7 linked regions of the Homo sapiens genome follow. The protein of the gene in region 7 purifies or fractionates together with the protein of the main gene of each other region. This does not show direct contact. Each region holds a gene or a part of one and is shown on either strand. Other genes may lie near its edges. The genes, in order: BBX, TRMT1L, NOL8, PNPT1, PIP5K1A, PDCD11 and ZSCAN31.

The links.
Region 1: the proteins of ZSCAN31 (region 7) and BBX purify together in Homo sapiens (affinity purification with mass spectrometry; 2 studies listed by BioGRID and IntAct, with this or other methods). This does not show direct contact.
Region 2: the proteins of ZSCAN31 (region 7) and TRMT1L purify together in Homo sapiens (affinity purification with mass spectrometry; 2 studies listed by BioGRID and IntAct, with this or other methods). This does not show direct contact.
Region 3: the proteins of ZSCAN31 (region 7) and NOL8 purify together in Homo sapiens (affinity purification with mass spectrometry; one large-scale study listed by BioGRID and IntAct). This does not show direct contact.
Region 4: the proteins of ZSCAN31 (region 7) and PNPT1 purify together in Homo sapiens (affinity purification with mass spectrometry; one large-scale study listed by BioGRID and IntAct). This does not show direct contact.
Region 5: the proteins of ZSCAN31 (region 7) and PIP5K1A purify together in Homo sapiens (affinity purification with mass spectrometry; 2 studies listed by BioGRID and IntAct, with this or other methods). This does not show direct contact.
Region 6: the proteins of ZSCAN31 (region 7) and PDCD11 purify together in Homo sapiens (affinity purification with mass spectrometry; one large-scale study listed by BioGRID and IntAct). This does not show direct contact.

What each region holds. Positions count from the first base shown.
Region 1 is NC_000003.12:107,808,901-107,811,839, forward strand, and holds the end of BBX (HMG box transcription factor BBX), read left to right. Parts: 3' UTR 1-2,439; downstream 2,440-2,939. UniProt on the Homo sapiens protein: Transcription factor that is necessary for cell cycle progression from G1 to S phase.
Region 2 is NC_000001.11:185,154,154-185,158,218, forward strand, and holds the start of TRMT1L (tRNA (guanine(27)-N(2))-dimethyltransferase), read right to left. Parts: upstream 2,801-4,065; 5' UTR 2,560-2,800; coding exon 2,325-2,559; intron 2,320-2,324; exon of another isoform or gene 382-2,319; intron 1-381. UniProt on the Homo sapiens protein: Specifically dimethylates a single guanine residue at position 27 of tRNA(Tyr) using S-adenosyl-L-methionine as donor of the methyl groups. Dimethylation at position 27 of tRNA(Tyr) is required for efficient translation of tyrosine codons.
Region 3 is NC_000009.12:92,318,851-92,322,350, reverse strand, and holds part of NOL8 (nucleolar protein 8), read left to right. Parts: intron 1-604; coding exon 605-683; intron 684-2,213; exon of another isoform or gene 2,214-2,408; intron 2,409-2,994; coding exon 2,995-3,130; intron 3,131-3,500. UniProt on the Homo sapiens protein: Plays an essential role in the survival of diffuse-type gastric cancer cells. Acts as a nucleolar anchoring protein for DDX47. May be involved in regulation of gene expression at the post-transcriptional level or in ribosome biogenesis in cancer cells.
Region 4 is NC_000002.12:55,683,845-55,687,344, reverse strand, and holds part of PNPT1 (polyribonucleotide nucleotidyltransferase 1, mitochondrial precursor), read left to right. Parts: intron 1-900; coding exon 901-975; intron 976-2,296; coding exon 2,297-2,402; intron 2,403-3,500. UniProt on the Homo sapiens protein: RNA-binding protein implicated in numerous RNA metabolic processes. Catalyzes the phosphorolysis of single-stranded polyribonucleotides processively in the 3'-to-5' direction. Mitochondrial intermembrane factor with RNA-processing exoribonulease activity.
Region 5 is NC_000001.11:151,243,552-151,246,791, reverse strand, and holds part of PIP5K1A (phosphatidylinositol 4-phosphate 5-kinase type-1 alpha), read right to left. Parts: intron 1-3,240. UniProt on the Homo sapiens protein: Catalyzes the phosphorylation of phosphatidylinositol 4-phosphate (PtdIns(4)P/PI4P) to form phosphatidylinositol 4,5-bisphosphate (PtdIns(4,5)P2/PIP2), a lipid second messenger that regulates several cellular processes such as signal transduction, vesicle trafficking, actin cytoskeleton dynamics, cell adhesion, and cell motility.
Region 6 is NC_000010.11:103,395,196-103,399,425, forward strand, and holds the start of PDCD11 (protein RRP5 homolog), read left to right. Parts: upstream 1-1,430; 5' UTR 1,431-1,535; intron 1,536-3,220; 5' UTR 3,221-3,231; coding exon 3,232-3,333; intron 3,334-4,230. UniProt on the Homo sapiens protein: Essential for the generation of mature 18S rRNA, specifically necessary for cleavages at sites A0, 1 and 2 of the 47S precursor. Directly interacts with U3 snoRNA. Involved in the biogenesis of rRNA.
Region 7 is NC_000006.12:28,326,149-28,329,648, forward strand, and holds part of ZSCAN31 (zinc finger and SCAN domain-containing protein 31), read right to left. Parts: coding exon 3,155-3,500; intron 1,386-3,154; coding exon 1,235-1,385; intron 707-1,234; coding exon 18-706; 3' UTR 1-17.

The sequences.
Region 1 (2,939 bases), on a different chromosome or scaffold from region 7:
TTCCCACGTTATCATTGTGATTCTACTTCCTGCCACTAAAATTGCTGGAGAAACAAAATAATGATGGAACACTATGAACAAAAAGGAGCATCTGAACTGGTCTGGTTATTTAGAATCCAATGTGTTCAAATCCTTTTGTTTTCTTATTAAGTCAGATGCTACTGTAAGTCAGATAAAATTTTGTTTGCACTCTGCAGTCTTTGGCTCAATGTATGGAAATGTTTGCACCTATGTAAAGTCACAAGCTAATTACAAATTGCTACAGAACAGGAGTAAGCTGAAAACTGAATGCCATGTTTTGTTTATAAGGTGGGGAGGGGAGGGAAAATACCAAAAAACTCTGTTCCAAGTTTGGCATTTGACATTAATGTGAAGCAGTGGGACCATGCTGCCTGCTAAACTACTGTATGAATCGTAAATGTTCTGAAGACGAGCAGCTGGAGGCTGGAGGATGGCATTCCATACAGCAAAGGAGAAGCACCCACCACTTCATCTGGGAAAAGGAAGGAAATTGCAGGAGGCCTGGAGCCATCATTTGTAAAGGGGATGTTGCGGGGTGTGATGCTGTTGAGGAGATTCACCTTCAATTGCACTGCTCCACAGAGCCCTCATATAAGGCCAATCCTAATGGGCTACCTCGGCTTTAAAAGTTAATTTCAGTAAGTCCTGTTTCAAAAGTTTGTCTTTTTTTGCTTCTACCTTCAGTGCCACTATTTTCCACTGCAGTGTTTTGACTTCACAAACTGCCTCCTCCAGAGAGAACAATGTATTGCTGAAAATGGGCAGTAGAAGCAAATGCTGTTGTTACATTTGACCTATAAAGTATTCAGAGTGACTGCTAGGTAGAAATTAAAACTTAGCTTTCCCAAATAGCTCCTTATTTTGCACCTTATAAAAAGTATACTAATTGTTAATTAGATGTTGCTTTTGTTTATACAAGCATTCCCAAAGAACTAGATTTGGATTTTGTTTTGAGTTTTTGGATTTTTAAAAATTATCTTATTTAGATTGACTAACAGCATACTTACAATTTTAAAAGAAGCTGTTGTTCAGTTCATCTTACCAGATGTGTCTGGCGAAGTATTCAGGGTTTGATGGACTGCTTTACTTTCGTTTGGAAGTGATAGCTAAGTTTATTATACTCTATATTAAACAACTTTGTTCATTTCACTGAGGACCTTATCTTCCTTATATTTCAGAACAAAGAAGCAACAAGCGTGAATAAAAAGACAAATGTATTTGACTCCCTCATAATCCCCATCTGTATGTGCTACCCTTCCTTCAAATATATAAATGTGCATCTTTTTTTTAAAAAAAAAAAAAAAAAAGGTTCCTCTTCTGGCCAAATTTGATCTATGGTGGTATGATTCATACTGTTAAATTGAGAGAGGAAACCTTGTGGTTAAAAATTATATGGCTGCTGTTTTCTTTTTGCAGTCAGTGGTCAAAACTGATCATGTGCTTAAATCGATTTTTATGCACAGAACTAGTTATTGTGAACATTACTGCTCCCTCCAAAGATTTCCTGATAACTTGGGCCAGAGGTGGTTACTGAGTAACAAGGATCTAATTCAATGCCTCAAAACTCTTCCACCCACAATGCAAATCTTACCTCACAAGCTCTAACCTAAATCACAGAGACATGCATGTTTCATGCATTAACACTGATTTCGCTCTGTGGCCCACCAGAGGGGTGGGCTCATGTCCCCTGACTCCTCACATGAGTGCCTCAGCTCTAAGAGCCGTGGAACGGGGGGTAGGGAAGGTTTGCGATCTGGAGCTCAGCAACTGGCTCAGCAACGTTTTCTCCATTTCATTAGCACTAAACAAGTCTCTTGCTCTCAGGAATTTGTCAGAAAAAAGAATAAAATCACCTGAGACTCCACATACCAGATTATAAACTCTTCTCGTAGGTTTGAATTGCTTACTCACATGTCATAAATTAACCACAGCTTCATTTGACCACCAGGTCTAAAGTCTGTTGACAGTTTCAGCATGACTGAATCGCTCATTTTTTTTTTTTGCTTTCAGAAATTGGCTTGGTTCTCTTTAGAGTTGGTGTAAACATGCCATGTAATAAATGATTTCCACTTAATGGTACAACAGAATTATTGCTTTCTTAGATGTATGTGTAGTAAAAGTCAATATACACATTTATATAATTTCTTTCTTCAAAATCTTATACCTAATTTGATATTTCTAAAAATTGCACATGTAAGTCATGTGTATAACATGCTAAAGTACTTTAACTGTGATCTTAAAACTGAATAAAAATATTTAATAAAACTTTGAAATATTTTAAAGATATTATTCAAATATATTTCTTTATGTTCACACTACTGGCCGTAGAGTATGTGCCTTTAATGTACCATTTTCACTAAAAACAGTAGGAAAAATACTAATAAAAGTAAGATATTTCAACTATTTTAGAACATCGAATGATGTGTCCCCCTAAACTGTGTTTGCCTGTGATTTGCCATTGTCTGGACAGCCTTGGTTGCTTTTCCCAAAAGTGTAGAGTGATGATCAGCCCAATAGAAGAAGAGGATATGCTTCAGTACGCCACTTGGGTGAACGCTTCTGGGGTGCGCTTCTGGGACTAGTGATCAGAACACACCATCTTTCCCTGAACTGGGACAAAACTGTGGAAGCGATTTCATTAAGAGTGTTACCTAAGTATAAACTCGCACCTCAGATTTGGTGAATACAATGTTCCTAAGTTGTTTTTTTTAATCCTTTGGAAACTACACGCATGCATGCACACAGTATTAATTATCAACAAATAGACTTTGTATTCAGACAGTTCTTCTACCCATGTACCATTGGGTTTTTTTTAACCTCCCTAATTCAGATTTATTGATAGTGATGATACCTCCTCATACCATTGCTGTGGTGAAGAAAAGAGAGTATATATGAAAATATTGTCATAGGGCCTGTAG
Region 2 (4,065 bases), on a different chromosome or scaffold from region 7:
CAGACACTCCTGCTCAAATTTATTAAAAGGTAATTTTTCATATTATTATTATTTAAAGATGGGTCTTGCTCTGTCACCCAGCCTCCATGGAATGTAGTGGCTCAATCATAGCTCACTGCAGCCTCAAACTCCTGGGCTCAAGCAATCCTCCTGCCTCAGCCTCCTGAGTAGCTGGGAGTATAGGCTGGTGCCTGGTTATTCACCTCATTTTTAAAGAAGCAACAAACAATATTGGTTAATTTCCTATATCAGATACTGGTCAAATGAGTTATAATGAGATATAATTTCTATAAACAGGTAAAACTTCTTCATGTTTCATAAAAATCTTTTGCTAGGTCAGACAGCAATATTCCAGAAATGAATCCATGTGTACAAACTAACCTATCTAATTTGTAACCATAAAGGCTTTTGGTTCCAGAGTTCAAAGATCTGTGTATGTAAAACAAGATAAACAGCAATCAATAAAGACGTGCCTATTGAAATTATTCTATTAAATAGCACAAAATAAGAGAAAGGAGCTTGGTTAAGTTAGAAAACTAAAAATCCTGTGGTCTACTACTGAAGAAACTCTTGAAGATCTGTTTAAAAATGCATGATATGCCTATAAACATCTCTGAAATCACCTTCTGGTTTAAGATAGTGCGTATCAGACAATCTGTATGCAAAATACTCAATCTGCTTTTTGTAACACACTATTAATCCAGAAGTCAACAGGCAAACTTCTTGTTAAATTAGATGTCTCCAAGATGCTAGGAGGGTCTTTTACAACTTATTCTATTACTTTTTCCTCAATTTTCAATTCTATTTCAGATAGGCTATCTTCATCTTACCTAGTTATGACTGATTTCAAAGGACTAACTAGATCAACTAAAAATAATGTTTAAAATGTGATTAATATATGTATTAGTTCTAATGCATTTCAGACTTCTCAATCATTACATATTTGTCCTACTAATGCATTTTCAGTTTCCCATATAGTATACCTTCTTCAAATTACATATTTGTAAATTTTGGAATATATAGATAAGTCTTTTCTATGTTTAACATATTTTTGATGGTGAGGAGGTAGAGAATGCATGCATTTCCCAAAGCTGCTGAACCACTTCTGACTAATATAAACAAATACAACTTCGAAGTGAGGTAGGAGGCTACTTAGGAGGGTGGAACCCTCTCAGCTCCCCATGCCTCCCCGATCCCTACCCACTGTAGTTGAAGAAACAACTGGCCTTATTTTGTACCTACAAGCTCTGATCTTATATAATGAGAAGGGGCTTACCTGAAGCATTCTGACTTTTGTCTTTCCTGTGATTAGCCCTACTCTGAAATCTATAACAATTTGTATGTTGTTTCAAAACTGCAAAATAATCCTATCTATAACTATCTAACCTTTTATAAATATTAAACTCAAAACTGGCCTAGAAGTAGAAAAAATAATGAATTAAAGATTATTTTAAGTTCCAATTCAGAAAGCACATAAAGGTCAACTTATGACCACAAACTAAATGTTAAAAGAACTTAAATTATGTCTTTCTTAGACCTTACATTTTAAAATGTTAGAAGATCCTTAAGAAAGTGTTACTCATCAGTCTTTTAAATTCCTATATGGTCCAATAAACCACCACTTAGAAAACATGCAGGCACATTCAGAAGCACAATAATATGGGCCATTAATTCTCAACAGTCTATTTCTGATGGAATGGAGTACAAAACTCAATTGGTATTTATGTATGGGGGAAAACATCCGTAAATTTAGTCGACTCTTTCCTAAACTACTACTCAGCCTCAAAATCTTTTCGGAGGCAAGCTGCTAGCGGGGGAAAAGAAAACTGAAATGAGAAAAACTCATCTCCTTGTGGCTGTCGAAGCAGAAAAGCTAGTTGACAGTAATGGTTTAGAAATGTTGGCAGCTAGGATCTACTACCGTAAACAGGTTGCCTCGGTTACTATGTCACATTTGAAAGAACTTAGTTAACCATGGCAGACTGGACTGCGGGAAACTACCAAATTATGTGTAACTTCCTATTTTTGTACCTTAAAAAGACTCCCTTTTAAGAAAAAGCCCTTAACCTCATTATTTCCTTCTATCTGCAGCATTCCTGCTCTCCGCATATCCCTCACCGTGACATCCTCGAGGCTTATGAAGATGCCGTCTCCCATTCTGTAACCCTGCTTTAGCCGCTACACGGGCCCCTCTTTCCTCCCCACCATTTTCCTAAACCTGCCTTGCCCCATAAAAACCATCCCGGTGAAGGGCCTCCCCTACTTCCCAGCAAGGCGCACTTTCTCTCTTCTGCAGCAGAAAGATCTGGGCCTTCTGCACTTACTGCTTTTAGCCTCCTCAGGGGCAGAGGCTAGGGACGGGGACAGGGCCGGAGCCTGGGCCAGGGCAGGGGCTGGGGCTGGAGCCGAGGCCGGAGTCGGAGCCGAGTCCAGAGCCGAATCCGGGGCCGGAGCTGGGACCCCAGCCGAGTCCCGGGCCGGGGTCGGGACCTGGACCTGGGCCACCTCCACCTCCTCCTTCTCCAGGGGCAGCAGCTCCTCCTCCGCCATATTCTCCATAGTTACCGCCTCCGTGCCAAGCCCGCCCGGGGACCCGGAGCGGGGCTCACGGCGGGGTCAGAGAACTGACGTGAATGCCCACAGGGCTGGATCCAAGGAGTGGGGAAGCAAGTGGGGAGGGCGGGATGCGTGCAACAGACAAAAGATGAAGAACCAGTGACCAAATCCTGTTAGTAGAAAACAGAAAGCCAGAGGCAGCGATTCCAGATGCCCGTCCGCTTCCCTTTCCCCGAGGCGTTACGACGCCACCACAAACTGCGCAGAAGCGTACTGGGGACGGCGTCCAATTGGGTAAGAGGGTTCGGTTTCTACGGTGCGTCTCCGGCCCACCGGCCAACCACCAAACCGAACAAAGACTACAGCACCCAGGATACACTGCGCAGTCTGGGGGCGGGGCCGGAGTTCAAGCCTCGGAGGAAGTAAATGCAAATCTAAGCGAGCGCTGTGGGGCGGTGAGTAGGTAGTGCGGATGCGGGCGCAGAACTACGTTTCCCAGCAGGCATACAGTTGGTGGGGCGGGGTGTGTGTGTGTGTTGGGAGGCGGGGGTCCCTCTCCTTTGGCTTGGGGCTCCGGAGTTGCCACTGCCGCCGGCGCTGGTAAGGTAGGAACTGCGGGGTGCGTTGACGTTTTGCTGGGCAGGTTCCCCCTCGTCCCCCGCCCCAAGTATACTGGCGGGCGGGCGGCCGGCCGGACTGGGGACTCAGGAGTCACACGGACCTGGGCGGGGCGACTCTGTGGGCGGGTCCGGGGACGAGCCAGCTCCGTGGAGGGTGTGGTTCTGGCCCGGCTTGCCTCCGGGGCTGCCCCTTGCCCGGTGTTGGGGTCTGGTCGGTTCGTGCGGAGCCCGCGGGCCCGCGGCGGTTTACTAGCAGCTGACGAGCTTGCCTGTCCATCCAGCTGACTTGGAATTAGGGTCTGTTCTTCATTTCGCACCCTCACCTACACCGTGACCCGAACACTCTTTTCCTTTGTTTTTATTTTTGCTTTAGTCTTCATGTTGCCAGTATCAGCAGTTCTGCGGTGTGGCCAGTGGATAGAAATTAGTTGTTTTGCTCTATTTTGCTTTGTTTTCAGGCTTTTAATAACCAGAGCTCTGAGTGGGTAGAGCTTCGGGGCATTTAATTTTGATGCGTTTCAGATCCCCAAAACATATGCTAGCGAGTCCCCTGTCCCCCGTACTTCTCTCCCCTTCACTCTTAGTGCCTACTTGACATTCGAGCCTTTCTTGTTTCTTTCTTCTGTCCCCCCGCGATAAATCCACTGGGACAGAAAGGAGAAAAACGTGAACTTTCTGGCTGCCCTGCTTGGGCTTGGTCCGAACCTTCTAGGCATCAGGGCAGGAGAGGGAAGCCCAATTTAGTCTCAAGAACAAGACGCGCGCTTCCAGTTAGCTTTTCTTAGTTAATTAAGTTGATAAACGCCAATCTTCTTGGTCTATTTGTTTCCTACTTGTTTCAGAACCCCGGGGAAGAGATAGCATGATTATTTGGCACTTTGAAGCACTA
Region 3 (3,500 bases), on a different chromosome or scaffold from region 7:
AGTATCTACCACCTACAAAATTCTGTTAATGGTATTATTAAGGAAGCTGACGGCAGATGCTCAGAGAAATCAATTACTACGGCATAGTAATTCAAACAGTTCAGTCACTCATAGTTAATTCATCTGCAAGTTCTACAGTGATAATTAGTATGAGGTGATAAATAAAATTAAGGTGCTGTAGGATTCCAGAGTGTCCTCTGATTCACCTGAAAAGATGATTGTTTTATAGTTACAGGAAATATATGTTTTATAGTTACAGGAAATAACAATAAAATATACATTAAATATCAGTTATTCAGAGGTTCCTGACATTTGTTTACAAACAAATTGCAAATAAATTTTGCTTTACTTTTTACACATTTTGCCTCATTCCAATCTAGTAACACTGTGAGATAGGGAGTGTAAAGACTCTTTTGGTAAGTTGTCAAGATGAAACAAGAGCCTAGGCTCCCTCTCTCCAGGTCTCATTTCTTTTCTTCCACTTCCCCTGGATCTCTTTGTGATAAACAAGCCTGCTTTTCTTGATACTAAATAATTAGAAAAAGCACAAGCTGAAATATATTTTTACATTGCCATGTACTTGTAATAATTCTTTACTTTATAGGTATGTCTGTTTTAAATAAAACAAAATGGAAAGGTGGAACATTACAAATTCAACTAGCAAAAGAAAGCTTTCTGCACAGGTAAGTTTTGCTCCACATGGATTTAAGCCCTATTTTTTTTATATTGTAAGTGGTTTTATATATTATTTCAAATTATCAAGTAATATAGTATTATATTCTTAACAAATTCAAACATATAAGTAGAGCTGAAATCCCTTTCAACTCTGAATCCCCTTCACCCCAGACGAACAAAAAGGATAATTTCATGCATTTACGTATGTATGTAATAAGCTATAAAAGTATATATGTACTTATTTTCTCTGTTAATGAGCTATAAAAGCATATATGTACTTATTTTCTCTTTGTTAACACACCCTTTTGTGGCAATGTAGATCTTCTCCCTTTATAACAATTGTTAGTAGTATTTCAGAAAATGGTTATACCACAATGTAGTGGTCCCTTCCCACTGATGACTGTTTCTACTTTTTCATGGTCATAGATGATCCTGGAGCACATATCCTATGTATATGCAGGTGTTTCTCTCAGTTTATATCAGAAAATGGAGTTGCTGAATCTTAGCATTGTCTGCATTTAAATTTTAGTAGACTACTAAATTGCATATGTTGATTTTGACTGTTAATGCTAGTGTCATACCAAAATATAAAGGAAATAGGAGATCACTGTATGACAGGCATAAGAGTGATTATGCAAGTGATTTAAGAGCAAGACAATGTATTATAAAAACCATTAGAGCTTTTAAAATCCTAAAGGTATTTTCAGGAAGAAAAGGTATTGTTGGGGAGTTTTCAAAATAGGAAACAATTTAAGAATATACAGATAGAGGCCGGGCACGGTGGCTCACGCCTGTAATCCCAGCACTTTGGGAGGCCGAGGCGGGTGGATCACCTGAGGTCAGGAGTTCAAGACCAGCCTGGCTAAAGTGGTGAAACCCCGTCTCTACTAAAAATACAAAAATTAGCTGGTTGTGGTCATGGGCTCCTGTAATCCCAGCTACTTGGGAGGCTGAGGCAGGAGAATCACTTGAACCTGGGAGGCGGAGGTTGCAGTGAGCCTACATTGTGCCATTGCACTCCAGCCTGGGCAACAGGAGTGAAACTCTTGTCTCAAACAAAAAAAAAGGAAAAAAAAAAAAGAATATACAGGTAGAATGACCAGGAGAGTTGATAAGCTTGTTCCAGACCAATGAAATGTAACAAGAACAGATATATTCTAAAACGAGTGGCAAGCAACCTACTTTGAGGCATGTTTTGGGGGACTGGCCTTATGAAAAAGGTGAGAATTTGATTTTGTTCTTCAGCTGAAGCCTAGGACTGTGAACAGGGTGGTTATATACCTTTCATTCCAGCAGCAGTTGCCAGCCTACTGTGTACAGGCACTAGAGCCCCATGCTGAGCAGGTTGAGCACACAGTGCTGCTGCTTGGAGTATCTGCGTGGATATGCCTGAGAAGCATGGGTCTGATGGTTATTCTGGGACATAAAGGAGACAGACCAGAGGCAAAGAGGCCAGTGAGGACTGCTCTGTGCAGTTGTCCAGGCCTGAAGAAGGTGGCGGTGATTTGAATCAGAAGAGGTGGCATTCTCTTCATTAGGAGGATATGGATAATCAAGACCTAACAAATTGGGCTCCGAAAGATACCTTCGTCATGGGGAAGAGTGAATGGAGAGAAGATAATATAAAATGCCAAACGTATATAAATTGAAAGGGGAAAATTGAGAGAACTTGCGATCCATGGTCTTGGTCTTCCATAAAGGGGAACTGGGACATCCACTGGAGCAGAGCACAGGTATAAGCGTGCATGTCAGGGATTTGGGAGACTGACTGTAGTGTAGTGGATGGGCTAAGAAAAGAACCCTCATGCTCTGGTGGGACAGCCCTGACAGCACAGCTTGTCACTGCTGTCCAACCGTATAGCTCAGTTGCTGGTGGTAAGGGACTGGTCAATAAACTACAGTAGATTGATGGAAAGGCATGTTGTACAGCAATCATAGTGATGTTTTCAAAGAACGTATAAGTTGATAAATGAAGTGTACCCAACTGTGCTTATGATATTTGGATTACATTATAAAATATGTATATTTACATACAGAACAAAGATGAAGTTAAGTAAACAAAATATTAACAAGATGAGGGATAAGGAATATGTTTTGTTTTCTTAACGGTTCTGTCTTCCAGTATTCTATAATAAAAACATTGTATGTTCAGATAAGTAGGTAAGCTATTATGCTACTAAGAAAGCATTTTTGTTTTATTTTGGTTTTTAATACTACAAAGCTGTTTATAGTGCTCATTTAGGCACACCTAAAGTGAAATAACCATTTTACGTGGCTGATTATTTTGACTCTTTTATTTGTATTTTCTTTTTGATTCAGATTGGCCCAAGAGAGAGAAGCAGCAAAAGCTAAGAAAGAAGAATCAACAACAGGTAACGCCAACTTGTTAGAAAAGACAGGAGGAGTGGATTTCCATATGAAAGCTGTGCCAGGGACAGAAGTGCCAGGGCATAAGGTGAGTCTCCTCTGTAGCCTGAGCCAATTACATGGTCTTGGAAACTGATGCCTGAGATCACGTGATTGTGGGTGTCATGTCTAAAACCAGTTACTCTTTTCCCCTTTCTTGGAGGCAATTAACATAGATAGGACTTTATGATTTTCAAGGTGCATTTACAACTCTTAGGTAAGCATAGTTCTCCATCATTTTACAGAGAAAGAAATCAAAACTCAAGCAGAGGTGGACTTTCAAGGGACATAGGTAGCAAGGAATACAGGCAGGTCCCAAGTTTGCCTGTTCAAATTAGCAGCCAGTGTTTTTTGTAAACCATCTTACACGGTTTACTTGGGATTGATAGCTGCTCCAAATCTTCCTTTTTTTTTCTTTC
Region 4 (3,500 bases), on a different chromosome or scaffold from region 7:
CCTCAGCCTCCCGAGTAGCTGGGACTACAGGCGTGCACCACCACACCCAGCTAATTTTTGTATTTTTAGTAGAGACGGGGTTTCACCATGTTGGCCAGGATGGTCTCGATCTCTTTTTTTTTTTTTTTTTTGAGATGGAGTCTCACTCTGTTGCCCAGGCTGGAGTGCAGCGGCGCGATCTCGGTTCACTGCAACCTCCGCCTCCCAGGTTCACGCCATTCTCCTGCCTCAGCCTCCTTAGTAGCTGGGACCACAGGCACCTGCCACCACGCCCAGCTAATTTTTTGTATTTTTAGTAGAGTCGAGGTTTCACCGTGTTAGCCAGGATGGTGTTGATCTCCTGACCTCGTGATCCGCCTGCCTCAGCCTCCCAAAGTGCTGGGATTACAGACGTGAGCCACCGCGCCTGGCCTGGTCTCAATCTCTTGACCTCGTGATCCACCTGCCTTGCCCCCGCAAAGTGCTGCAATTACAAGTGTGAGCGACCGTGCCCAGCCGTATTAAGTGACGTTTAACATCCTTTCCAAACTTGGGCTTCTGTTTTATGCGTTAATAAATTCTGTTGTGCTTTTCTAGAGAAAGTGATTTTGGTATTTTCTTCTATAGTAATAATTGGGGAATTTTTCCTTATGTATAGCCACATAAGAAGTAGAGAATACTATTCAATTCATTGAATATGACTAAATTACCTGTTAATCTTTCCTTATTTTGATTCCATAGCTTTTGAAAAGCTCAGAGATCAAGATTGGACTACTTGTGAATATTTTTTATTTCATAATCGTGTCGTAGAATTAGATATCTTTTCTTGAGTTTAATTGGAGTAAGGATTTATTCAGTTGCTACTTAGATGCTAATATCTGATTTCAAAGGAACTTACCAGCGTTGTTCTTTATGTTTAAGTCAGGTGACACTGCAGTAATGGTCACAGCGGTCAGTAAAACAAAACCTTCCCCTTCCCAGTTTATGCCTTTGGTGGTAAGTATTTGCTGATTTATCTGAACTGTAATATGGTCTGAGTAAAGTGTAGAATGTATAATATTTTTGTCCAGTGTCTAGTGAGTGGAAAATACAAACTTGCACAACAAAGAATTTTTCCTAGTTTTTTGATACTGATTCATTAAAAGAGTATAAACTGCTTCATAAACAAATACTAGGATTAAGCATACTTTAGAATTTGGAACGTCCAGGTGCGTAAGTTGACAAGAAGATTGGAAGTGCATGAGTACTTTGACATTGAATAAGCAATGAATTCATTGCCCTCATAGTTTCCCTTCAGTATGACTCTGCAAGTACAGTCAGCCCTCCATGTCCTTGGGTTTTGCATCCATGGATTCAACCAACCATGGATCGAAAATATTGGGGGAAAAATTGCATCTGTACTGAATATGTACAGACTTTTTTTCTTGTCATTCCCTACGCAATACGGTATAAAAACTATTTATGTAGAATTTACATTGTATTAAGGATTATATGTAATCTAGAGATGATTTAAAGTATATGAGAGGATATACGTAAGTTATAAACAAATACTATGGTGTTTTACATCAAGGATTTGAGCATCCATGGATTTTGATATCTGCAAGAGGTCCTAGAACCAATCCCCCAGGGATACCAAGAGACAACTGTGTATATTTAGTAATGAGCTCATGAGAATTTTATAGCTCCCTTCTATTATGAAAAGGGGTGTACAATTATATTTAACAGAGTTGATACCAAAAAAAAGCAATGTTTGACTTGATCAGAATGAGCATCTGTGGCAAATAGTGAGTCTTCTTCCACTTTTACTGTTGAGTAGAAGACTTTTTTTTTTTTAAGAGACAGGGTCTTGCTCTGTCACCCAGGCTAGAGTTGTTCAGTGGTGTGATCATAGTTCACTGCAGCCTCAAACTCCTGGGCTTAAGCAATCCTCCCACCTCAGCCTTCTGAGTAGCTAGGACTATGGGCACAGGCCATTGTGCCCAACTAATTTTTTTTTTGTTGGGGGTAGAGACAAGGTCTTTCTGTGTTACCCAGGCAGTTCTAAAACCCTGGCCTCAAGTGGTCCTCCTGCTTTGGCCTCCCAAAGTGCTGGGATTACAGGCGTGAGCCACTGCACCTGAACGTTTTTTAAAATCACTTTGCAGAAACATTTCTATCAACTTTCCTCTCCCCAAAAGATACAAAATGCTAAGTAAATAACATTTTCTACTCTGAGTCTAGACTGTGTTGTTAGCAACCTCAGGAGAATTAGCATTCATACAGTATAGTTTGTTTCTGCAAAAAGAATTATATGAACTTTTTTTTATTGCTGCTTCAGGTTGACTACAGACAAAAAGCTGCTGCAGCAGGTAGAATTCCCACAAACTATCTGAGAAGAGAGATTGGTACTTCTGATAAAGAAATTCTAACAAGTCGAATAATAGGTAAGATATTAACATAGAGGCGTTCATCTTCTCTGGTATGCCTATGTTAGCATCTCTTCTCTTGCATCTGTGTTCTACAATAAGTCTTAAGTTTTCCTTCATAGCATTAACACCACCTAAGATTATTCACTCCTTCTCTTCCCTCACTCAAATGTGGGCACTGTGAAAGAAAAAACTTTTATTTCTTCAGGGTTGAATCCCTAGTACCTGTTATACTGCTTAGCACAGAATAGGCATTCAATAAATATTTGTTGACTAAATGAGTAAATCTCTATTGAGCATATGAATTTTTTGGCCCATGCCTCTACTTTGTTGAATCTATTCCTAGTACATTTTTTCATGTTCAGAATAGTAATTCCTAAACATTATGTTCATCAGCTACTGAAATATGTCCATAATCTTTCAAATCTTTAACATCCCTACATATTGTGGGATCATATGTAATTTATAGCTCTTCTACCCAGAAATTGCTTTTTTTTGAGACAGAGTCTTGCTCTGTCACCCAGGCTGGAGTGCAGTGGCACGATCTCGGCTCACTGCAACCTCTACCTCCCGGGTTCAAGTGATTGGGATTACAGGTGCCCACCACCATGCCTGGCTGATTTTTGTATTTTTAGTCAAGATGGGGTTTCTCCATTTTGGTCAGGCTGGTCTTGAACTCCTGACCTCGTGATCCACCCGCCTCAGCCTCCCAAGTGCTGGGATTGCAGGCGTGAACCACTGTGCTCGGCCAGAAATTGCTATTTTATGTATATTTATATACAGTCTTCAGACACAAAGTAGCAAGGAAGCATTTTCTTTTGGTCTGCTATTGGTCTTAAGTCTCTTTGCTCTGCTTATATATGTAACTGTTGCCTGTGGAACCAGAATGAAAAATTGCTCCCCAATCTTTATTGTTAATGTGCTTCTTCTGTGTTTGTTTTTTGTTGTTAGGGCATGGTATGTAATAATGGAAGCACTGACATTTATCTGTGTCCCTCTTAGTAAATCAGTCCAAGGGGATTTTTCTTGAAAACATATTGAATGGCTATCTATATTAGTTCAAACGTTTTGAACTGTAAAGCAACTCTGTCAGTACGGTTTAATGTGTTTTTTTTT
Region 5 (3,240 bases), on a different chromosome or scaffold from region 7:
GAGGCTGAGAAGCTACTAGATTTAGAAGCACACTGTTTTAATTAACCATATTTAGCTTCTTGAATACTATAAAATATTTCCCAGTACCCTGCCCTCTTCTGTTTCAATCTCCAGGTGTCGTAGGTACCCTCTAAGATTGCCCCCAATAATCCCTGCCTCCTGAGATCCATGCCATTGTGTAATTCTCTCTCAAGTGTGGGCTGCATTTAGTGATTCTCTTCTCATGAACAGAATGCAGCACAGGAGATGGAATGTCCATTCTGAGATTAGATTACAAAAATACTGTATCTTCTTCTTGGACTCATGCTCTAGCCCCTGCTTGCCTGCTCTGAGGAAAGCCAGCTCCTATGCTATGAGCTGGCTATGGATAGGGCGATGTGACAAGGAACCGAATACTGCCAACAACCATATAAGTGAGCTGAGAAGCTGATCTTCCCTCAGATAAGCTTTTGGACTAATAGCTTGACTGTAATCTCGAGAGAACCCGAGCCAAAGGCATCCAGCTAAGGTACAGAAACTGGGATAACAAATTTTTGTTTTCTTTTTGAGACAGATCTCGCTCTGTCGCCCAGGCTGAAGTGCAGTGGCACTATCTTGGCTCACTGCAACCTCTGCCTCCCGGGTTCAAGCAATTCTCTCGCCTCGGCCTCCTGAGTACCTGGGATTATAGGCACAAATCACCACACCTGGCTAATTTTTCTATTTTTAGTACAGATGGGGTTTCATCATGTTGGCCAGGCTGGTCTCGAACTTCTGGCCTCAGGTGATCCGCCCTCCTCGGCCTCCCAAAGTGCCAGGATTATAGGTGTGAGCCACCACACCCAGACTGAGATAACAAATGTTTGTTTTCAACAGCTAAGTTTGGGGGTAATTTGTTACACAATAATAGATAATACAGACTTTTGTACCTGGAATTGAGGTGCTGCTATAACAAAAATCTAAAATTTGGGGGTGGTGGCCTGGTGCAGTGGCTCATGCCTATAATCCCAGCACTTTGGGAGCCTGAGGCAGGCAGATCATCTGAAGCCAGGAGTTCAAGACCAGCCTCAGCAACATGGCAAAACCACGTCTCTACCAAAAATACAAAAATTAGCCAGGCATGATGGTGCACGCTTGTAATCCCAGCTCCTCGGGAGGCTGAGGTAGGAGAATCGCTTGAACCTGGGAGGCGGAAGTTGCAATGAACCAAGATAGTGCCACTACATTCTAGCCTGGGTGACAGAGGGAGACCCTGTTGGCAGAGACTGCAGTGAACCAAGATCGTGCCACTGTACTCCAGCCTGGGCAACAGAGTGAGACTCCATCTCGAAAAACAAAATCAAAACAAAACAAAACATTGGGGGTGGCTTGGAGGAGCATTTTAGTGAAAAGGTAGTGTCCTGAATATGCTGTTTATAGAATTTTGGACTTAAAGGGGGTTACCAGTGAGGGCTTAAAGTGAGAAAAATTTTATTGGAACTTGAAGGAAAGGAGATCCTAGTAAGGCAGCAGCACAAAGTTTAGCAACAATGTGATTTGTGATTATGTGAGAAGTAGAATATGTGCCTAATGAATTGGACAATCTAGCTACGGAGATTTCCAAGCAAAGTCCTGAAGGTGCCACCTGGTTTTCTCTTGATGCTTATAATAAAATATAGGAGAAGATAAAGAAATTATGGGAAGGACTATTAAACAAAAATGCCAGAACTTGATAAGTTTTGAAAATTCTAAGCCTCTCCAGAGAGCAAACGATGCTAAAATTAAGAAATGGCAGGCCACATACGGTGGCTCACTTCAGGAGGCAGAGGGAGGAGGATTGTTTAAGACCAGCCTGGTTAACACAATGAGACATCTCTACCAAAAAAAAAAAAAAAAAGGCTTTTGAGCAAGGATAAGCTCCAGAGCACTGCCAAGAAAATGTGGTCTAAAGATGAAGGCAAACATATGACTGTGAAACATCTTATTAAGACCTCAGAAAAACAAAAGGTATTGGTTCAGAGTATAGTCATCCCTCAATATCTGTGGGGGACTGGTTCCAGGACCCCTCCTTGAATATCAAAATCCACAATGCACAAGTCCCTTATATACAATGCTATGGTATTTGCATATAACTCACACACATCCTCCATATACTTTATTTTTATTTATTTTTCTTTTGAGACAGGGTCTCGCTCTGTCACCCAGGCTAGAGTCCAGTGGCGCGATTTCGGCTCACTGCAACCACTGCCTCCGGGGTTCGAGCGATCCTCCTGCCTCAGCCTCCTGAGTAACTTGGACTACAGGAACATACCACCACGCCTGGCTAATTTTTTTGTATTTTTGGTAGAGATGGGGTTTCGCCATGTTGCTCAGGCTGATCTTAAACTCCTAGGCTCAAGTAATCTGGCCGCCTCTACCTCTCACAAGTGTTGGGATTACAGGCGTGAGCCATCACGCCTGGCCCTCCATATACTTTAAATCATTCCTAGATTATTTATGATAACTAATACAATGTAAATGCTATGTAAATAGTTGTTATACTATATTGTTCAGGGAATAATGACAAGAAAAGTCTGTACATGTTAAGTACAGGCCTAACTGTACAGTACATATCAGCAACAACATAACATTTTCACGACTTTTTTTTTTTTTTTCAGTATTTTTTCGTTTCTTTCTTTTTTTTTTTCAAAGGGATGGGGTCTCGTTATATTGACCAGGCTGGTCTCAAACTGCCTCAAGCAATCCTCCCACCTCAGCCTCCCAAAGTGGTGGGATTACAGGCATGAGCCACCACACCAGGCTCTCAAGTATTTTCAGTCCACAGTTGGTTGAATCTGGGATGTGGAACCTGTGGATACGGAGGGCTGATTGTGCTATTCAGTCATACAAAAGGCTGTTCAGAAGATTATGTTTCACAGATCCTTTCAACCGAAAAACAGAGTCTGTAAGAAGCTTAGGTCTCATAAAGAAGATATTTATGAGTGTGGCTTTTGTCTAATGGAGTAAATCCCAAGGAGAATCACAGGAGGCCCACAAAATCTTCTGTATCAGTAGAAACACTGCCATCTTGGATCAAAAAGGACAGAAACAGTACAAAATAGAGACCACTAGTTCCCCTAAAATTCTACTGGAAAGAAGCAGCCTGAGAAAAGAACTCAGGTAAAAACACACTCTAGCTTTGATGAAAAAGGAAGACTCAGAAGACAAAACCAAGAGTCTAGAGGGTAGAGCCAAGAACCACGGAGAATTATTCTTCTGCTTTGAGGCCTGATAAAAGAAACT
Region 6 (4,230 bases), on a different chromosome or scaffold from region 7:
TACTTTAGGGCAAAGATAAAGGAACCCTTGTGTTTACAGTGCCCTTTGTAAGACTCCTAGTTGTGATTTAATGTTGTTAAACGGTGGTATGTTTTAATTAAGTTGCTAACTGCCCTTCTTGAGACAAGGTCTCGCTCTGTCGTCCAGGCTGGAGTGCAGTGGCGCGATCTCAGCTCACTGCAATCTCCGCTTCCCGGGGTCAAGCGGTTCTCCTGCCTCAGCCTCCCGAGTAGCTGGAACTACAGGCGCGCGCCACCACGCCCGGCTAATTTTTGTATTGTTGGTAGGGACGGGGTTTCACCATACTACTCAGGCTGGTCTCGAACTCTGGACCTCAGGTGATCTACCCGCCTCGGCCTCCCAAAGTGCTGGGATTACAGGCGTGAGCCACCGCGCCCGGCCACTAACTGCTCTTAAATGTAACTAATCCTTCCGTGCCTCTCTCCACCTGTGAGATGGGCACTTTATTAAAGGTCCAAAGTGACCAGTAGCTCTTGTTACTTTCTCTGTTCCTCGATATTGCTATTTTCCTTTCTAACTTAACACCTACCTGGAATGGTGAGATCACGAGGTAAGGAAGGCAAAGATGAGTGAGAACCACTCAGGTAACAGAAGCAGCCTCTTGCATTCACGGAGTTTACAGCTCTCTGTTCTGGTTACCTCCTAGGAAAGGCCTTCCCACTGATCGTCTATAGACTGAAATCTAACCCTTTTACAGCGGGCCTGGCGAACTGTAGGGGCCGGGCCACATTCACTCGCTTTGAAAAAGGCTGCAGCGCACCTAAAGGAGGCCCGGCTGGCCAGCTTCCTAAAGCACAGCTCGGTGGGAACAAACAGCTATGGACATACAGAAGAAAAGAGGTTAATTCGGCCGGTGATGGGGATCAGAAGCCCTAGTCCTCGTCCAATATTACGTCACTGGGTGACCTCGAGGGACGCTTCGCGGAGGGCCTCATTTTTCTCCACTGGCGAATGCAATCTAAGGGTCTTCGGAAACTGTGGGAGCCCTTGGGCGCACCTATCCGCCTCACCTCGAGGCTTCTCACCCGCTGGCCGCCCCCTTGCGCCCCTCGTTTTTTCTAGCTCCTTTCCCATTCCCCACCGTTTCTCTCCTCCAAAGCTAAGAACTCGAGTTGCTCCTCGGCCAGAAACGGCGGGCGGTCCTGCAACGTGCAGGCGCCAGGTCCAAGCCCGGACTCCCCTCTTCACCCACCTGCCAAAGCCGCAAATTCCGCAGCTGGTGTCCTTCAACGAATGTAACCACCTCTCGGCCCGGCCGGAAGAAGCCACCTCCCCCGCACGCGTTTAGCCGGCCCCCGCGATTCGGCCTAATGCGACGATTGGCTATGGCTCCAAATCCCGCCCTTCCGATTCCTGTCTCTAGGTCACCTCCGCAACACAGCAACGGAAGTAGGGTGTTGAGCCCGCCCACACTTCCGGAAGAATTGCACTGGACTGTGGGTATCCTGGTCTCCGCGTGTGTGAGTACCGCGGCGCGAGGTTAGTGGTAGCTGGGTGCAGACGCCGTGGCGCTGGTGAGTAAAGGCAGAGGCGAAAAAGGAGGAAACCTCATGGCTGTCAGGTCTGTCCCAGGCCTGGTTCCCTGCCAGGCACACGCTAGATGAGTGTGGTTCGGCCACCTTAGCCCCGCTTCGAAGCCGGCTCTGTTGTAGCAGCCCCTGTAACCCCAGGCTTTGTGTTCGGAAAGTAGCCTAAGTATCTTCTGTGCCCCTGGATCGCCTTACTTTTCAGAGCCTCAGTTTCCCCTTGCTTGAAAGGAAATTAAGGGTGAAATTATCAGCAAACTAGACCCCCCAAACTTTCCTGTTTCTATGAATCATATACCCATCCCTGATTCCATATCCTTGGCCCCACCCGGTCATCACTTCTTTAGTCTAAAGCCCTTGTAGAGTCTTATTACCAAGTGTCTGTCAGAACTAACCTCTCCTGTCTTCTGTTTTCACTTATACCCAGTTCTGGTTCTCATGGTTTCTCTGCTGTACTGCATTTGAATCCTTTTTTTTTTTTTTTTTTTCTGTCACTGAGATAACAGGAAACAGTGCATTTGAATCCTTCTACCGAATTTACTTGCCTTCAATACTGTCTCTCTTCATGTCCAATCTATAGCCTGCAGTATATTTTTCTTGCTTACTGTTCTCTCGCTTTCCCTGCTTAAGTCTCTGACTTGCCAAAGCAAACTACCCATATCTAATTCAAGGTCTTCCACAAAAAAGCCCAACTTCTCCTTTAATTTTTTTGAGACAGAGTCTCACTTTGTCTCCCAGGTTGGAGTGCGGCGGCATGATCTCAGCTCACTGCAACCTCCGCCTCCCGGCCTCAAGCAATTCTCACGCTTCAGCCTGCCTAGTAGCTGGGACTAGGCGCAGGCCACCACGCCCGGCTAATTTTTGCGTTTTTGGTAGAGACGGGGTTTCGCCATGTTGACTATGCTGGTCTCGAACTCCTGACCTCAGATGATCCACGCGCCTCGGGCTCCCGAAGTGCTGGCATTACAGGTGTGAGCCATGGTGCCCGGCCTTCTTTAAAATTTAACTTCAATTTTTATGCTTTAATCTCCCAGTGGTCTAGTTGAATAATTCCTCAGAGACAACAGCAAGCCTTTGAGCAGTTGTTTGATAGGGAAATTGCTGGTGTTTATTGAAATAATAGGCTTTTCCCATCCATGTCTTTTCTCACATTCCCTTTCTACCTGTCAAGCTTCTGTTCATCTTTTACCCTTAAGCTAAAAAAGATCTTCTTTATGAAGCTTGCCTCCTTTACTTATCCCTTCCTACATTGCCTTATCCCTTCCTACATCTTTGTGATCATTTATAATCTGATTTGCATTTTAAGTTACTTGCATAATTGTTTTATCTTCCAAAAAGTGTGCATGTTCTTTGAAGGCAGAGGATTATATATTCATCTGTAGAGCTACAGTGTATCTCTGACTTAACTGTAGCTTCTTAGTGAGTATGTGCTACATTGAATCTATAACTTCTTTTTCTGGAAGAAGGTGGGTGGACTTGTGGTTTTGAAGCAGAGACCTTTGGAAAGATGAAGTATGGATTATTCCGGGCCTGACATCTAAACCATCTATGTTGTAGTCCTGAATGTTGTCTAGCATATTGCTGGAACGTTCTGTCTCTTGCCCGTTGATAACACCTTTCTGAAATCTGCTACCAAGACAACATGTCACCATTATCCTTTGCATTGTTTTTAGGAGACCCAAACATGGCAAACCTGGAAGAAAGCTTCCCCCGAGGAGGTACAAGAAAGATCCACAAACCAGAGAAAGCTTTCCAGCAGTCAGTTGAACAAGACAACTTATTTGATGTAAGTAGTATGCTTGTTTGGTGACACTCACTGGAAACTTTTACTGTAGTGTCTTGTGAAAAATGAGCCTTATTTGAGAATGTGTTATTTTTCCAGATTTTTTTTGCATTGAAGTCTACTTCTATAAATTTAACTCATTTAGAGAGGCCATACCACCACAAGGCTGTATCTTTTGAAGCTTGGCATTTAGTATTAAAGTACTGTTATTAGCTGGGCGTAGTGGCTCATGCCTGTAATCCCAGCAGTTTGGGAAGCCGAGGCAGGCGGATCACTTGAGGCTAGGAATTCAAGAGCAGCCTGGCCAACATGGTGAAACCCCGTCTATACTAATACCAAAACTAGCTGGGCATGGTAGTATACCTGTAGTCCTAGCTACTTGGGAGGCTGAGGCATGAGAATTGCTTGAACCAAGAAGGTGGAGGTTGCACTGACCCAATATTGTGCCACTGCTCTCCTGCCTGGGCGACAGAGTGAGACTCTGTCTCAAAAAACACACAAACAAAATAAATAAAGTGCTGTTCCTTGTTCTTAGACACTCTTTGCCATGTGCCATGTTGATTAAGGATGGAGAGGAAGCAGTTTTTTTTTTTTTTTTTTTTTTGAGACGAAGTCTTACTCTGTTGCCCATGCTGAAGTGCAGTGGCGTGAGTAGCTGGGATTACAGGTGCCTGCTACCATACCTGACTAATTTTTGTATTTTTGTTAGAGATGGGGTTTCACCATGTTGGCCAGGCTGGTCTGAAACTCCTGACCTCAGATGATCTGCTCACCTTGACCTCCCAAAGTGCTGGGATGGCAGGTGTGAGCCACTGCACCCAGCTGATGTTTTTGTTATTTTTGTTGTTGTTTTTTCAAGAGATGGGGAGAGATGATGTTTCACTCTGTTACTCAGGCTGG
Region 7 (3,500 bases):
TCCCAAACTCATCACCCTTATGGTCTCTCTCCAGTGTGGATTTTCTGATGTTTCTTAAGAAGTGTCCGCTTACTAAAGAGTTTACTGCACTGACTGCACTGATAGGGTTTCTCACCAGTGTGGACTCGGAGATGCTGGAAAAGCCCTGCATTCTGAATGAAGGCTTTGCCACACTCACGACACTGATAGCGCTTCTCTCCAGTGTGTATCCTCTGATGCTGAACAAGGCATGAGCTGAGGAGGAAAGCCTTCCCACACACTTTGCATTCATATGGTTTTTCCCCTGTGTGGATTCTTCTGTGTCGAGTGAGGCCATTGCTGGCACTGAAGGCTTTCCCACACTCCTTACATTGATAGGGTTTCTCTCCAGTGTGGCTCCGCCGATGTTCATTCAGGCTTGACCTCCGGCTGAAGGCCTTCCCACATTCTTCACATTCATATGGCTTCTCCCCAGTGTGGATTCTCTGGTGCTCAATGAGTACTGAACTCTTAGTGAAGCTTTTCCCACATTCATTGCACCTGTGGCGTCTCTCTCCAGTGGAATGTGCCTGCTGCTTTTCTGCCTTGCTGTCTCGTTTACAAGTTTCTCTGTACTTAGAATCCAAAGATACATCTCTTTGGAGTTTGCTATCCCCCAAATGTTCCATTTCTTTTAAGATTTCTTGCTTTGATGCCAACTCCTGGTTCTCAGGTATACTTTCACCATCTGGAATAATAAATGGACCAAACAATGTAATCTCTTTCCTTTATGAAAGAATACAATCATAGGATGGAAATAGAAAGATCGATATCAAACAGACATGTTCTAGGAATGAAGAACTGTCAGTTAAGGAGCAGGTTGGGTTAAACAGGGATGTTTAGGCTAGTAGAGTAAGGGGTCATCAGCACTGCTAAAATGGCTGGAGGGAGCACCCAGAGGCTCCCAGTGAGGATGTACATAAGCAGGCACTATATTATATTCATTACAAGGCAGGCACTGTTCTAAGTGTTTTACATATGTTAACTTTTTAAATCTCAAATGACTCTGTGACTGAAGTGCTATGATTATCCCCACTTCAAATATGCATAAACTGAAGGCACAGGGAGGTTACCTGACTTGTCCATTGTCACAGAACTATTAAATGCAGCGTTTAAATTCCAACCCAGGCAATTTAGCCCCAGAGTCCACAGTCTTAACTATCGCCCTATATAGACCCACCAGAGATCTCCTGAAGGGACCTGTCAAAATCCTTACCTTGTTCTTGAAATTGGTGGAGGCAAAAAGATTCATATCTGAGCTGTGTCACCATAGGCTGAAGCTGTATGTCTGTTGGTTCCTGCTTGACCTTCAGATGTTCCACATCCTCCAAGAGCACTTCAGAATGTCCATGTTCATGGTCTGGAGCCTGAAGGCAGGTAGGCATATTTGGTTAAAGAGGGGGATTATAGGAGTACAAGCTAATACTAAATGAAAGATATCACATGGAACTATATGAAACATTTTCTAGAGAGATGTCACAGTGGAAGGACCAGAGTTTAATTCATTACCCAAAAGCAAAACAGGGAAGAGTGGCCCAATCAAGTGTGGTGGTTTAAAATAAATCCACCAGGTAGAATCTAACTGCCCATCCCCAACCCCCTGAATGTGGGCTGTACTTGATAGCTCAACTCTACTGAATAGAAAGTGAGGCAGACGAGATGGTATATAACTTCTGAGTCGTAAAAAGTATCAGAGAATCTGTCCTGATATTCATGTAGGTTCTTTTCTATTTTCCTTAAGCGTCAGCCAGCTTGAGAAATAAAGGGACAGAGTACAAAAGAGAGAAATTTTAAAGCTGGGTGTCCAGGGAAGACATCACATGTCAGTAGGTTCCGTGATGCCCCACAAGCCACAAAAACCAGCAAGTTTTTATTAGGGATTTTCAAAAGGGGAGGAAGTGTGCGAATAGGTGTGGGACACAGACATCAAGTACTTTACAAGGTAATAGAATATCACAAGGCAAGTGGAGGCAGGGTGAGATCACAGGACCACAGGACCAAGGCGAAATTAAAATTGCTAATGAAGTTTCGGGCACCACTGTCATTGATAACATCTTATCAGGAGACAGGGTTTTTGAGATCAACCGGTCTGACCAAAATTTATTAGGCGGGAATTTCCTCTTCCTAATAAGCCTGGGAGTGCTATGGGAGACTGGGGTCTATTTCACCCCAGCAGTCTCAACCATAAGAGATGGCTACGCCCAGGGGGGCCAGTTCAGAGACCTACCCCCAGGCGCACATTCTCTTTCTCAGGGATGTTCCTTGCTGAGAAAAATAATTCAGTGATATTTCTCCTATTTGCTTTTGAAAGAAGAGAAATATGGCTCTGTTCCGCCCAGCTAACTGGCAGTCAGAATTTAAGGTTATCTCTCTTATTCCCTGAACAATTGCTGTTATCCTGTTCTTTTTTCAAGGTGCCCACATTTCATATTGCTCAAACACACACGCTGTACAATTTGTACAGTTAATGCAATTATTACAGGGTCCTGAGGCAATATACATCCTCCTCAGCTGACAGGATTAAGAGATTAAAGTAAAGACAGGCATAGGAAATCACAAGGGTATTGATTGGGGAAGTGATAAGTGTCCATGAAATCTTTACAATTTATGTTTAGAGACTGCAGTAAAGACAGGCATAAGAAATTACAAAAGTATTAATTTGGGGAACTAATAAATGTCCATGAAATCTTCACAATCTACATTCTTCTGCTATGGCTTCAGCTGGTCCCTCCATTTGGGGTCCCTGACTTCCCGCAACAAAAAAGCACTGTGGCTTTTTCCTTTCTCTCTCTTTCTCTCCTTCTCCTCTCTGGAGGAAGCCACCTGACATGTTGTGAGGGCACTCAAGCAGCCCCATGAAGAGTACCAACATGGTAAAGAACTAAGACCTCCTGCCAACAGCCAGTGAGTAGCTGAGGCCCCCTACCAACAATTGTACCAGTAAACCATCTTGGAAGTGGATCCGCCCACCTGAGTCTTGTCATCAGATGACCATAGTCTTGGCCATTAAGGTTTAGGGGTAATTTGTTACACAACAGAGAACTAATACATATAGCTATAGCCAACCAACCTGTGTCACCAAACCCCACCTTTCATTTAGTATTTAATGTCTAGAAGTCCATCTTTCTCCTCTCACCTGGTTCCCTGGCTCACTAAGCTCTTGTTCCAGATCTTCAACTACAGCCACAGCCTCCTCCCCACTCTCCGGATGGTGCTCCCGCACCCAGGCCTGGAGCTCCTCAGGCAGGATAGTCAGGAATTGCTCCAGCACCAGCAGCTCCAAGATTTGCTCTTTGGTGTGGATTTCTGGCCTTAGCCACTGATGACAGAGTTCTCGGAGCCGGCTCAGAGCTTCTCGGGGACCAGGAGTCTCTTGGTAACAAAACTGCCTAAAAAGTTGTCGGGAGGCTTCTTGGCCAGAAAAGTTGTTCCCTCGAAGGTGGGTTTCTTGGTCCCAGATAGGGTCTTCCTCCACTTTCACA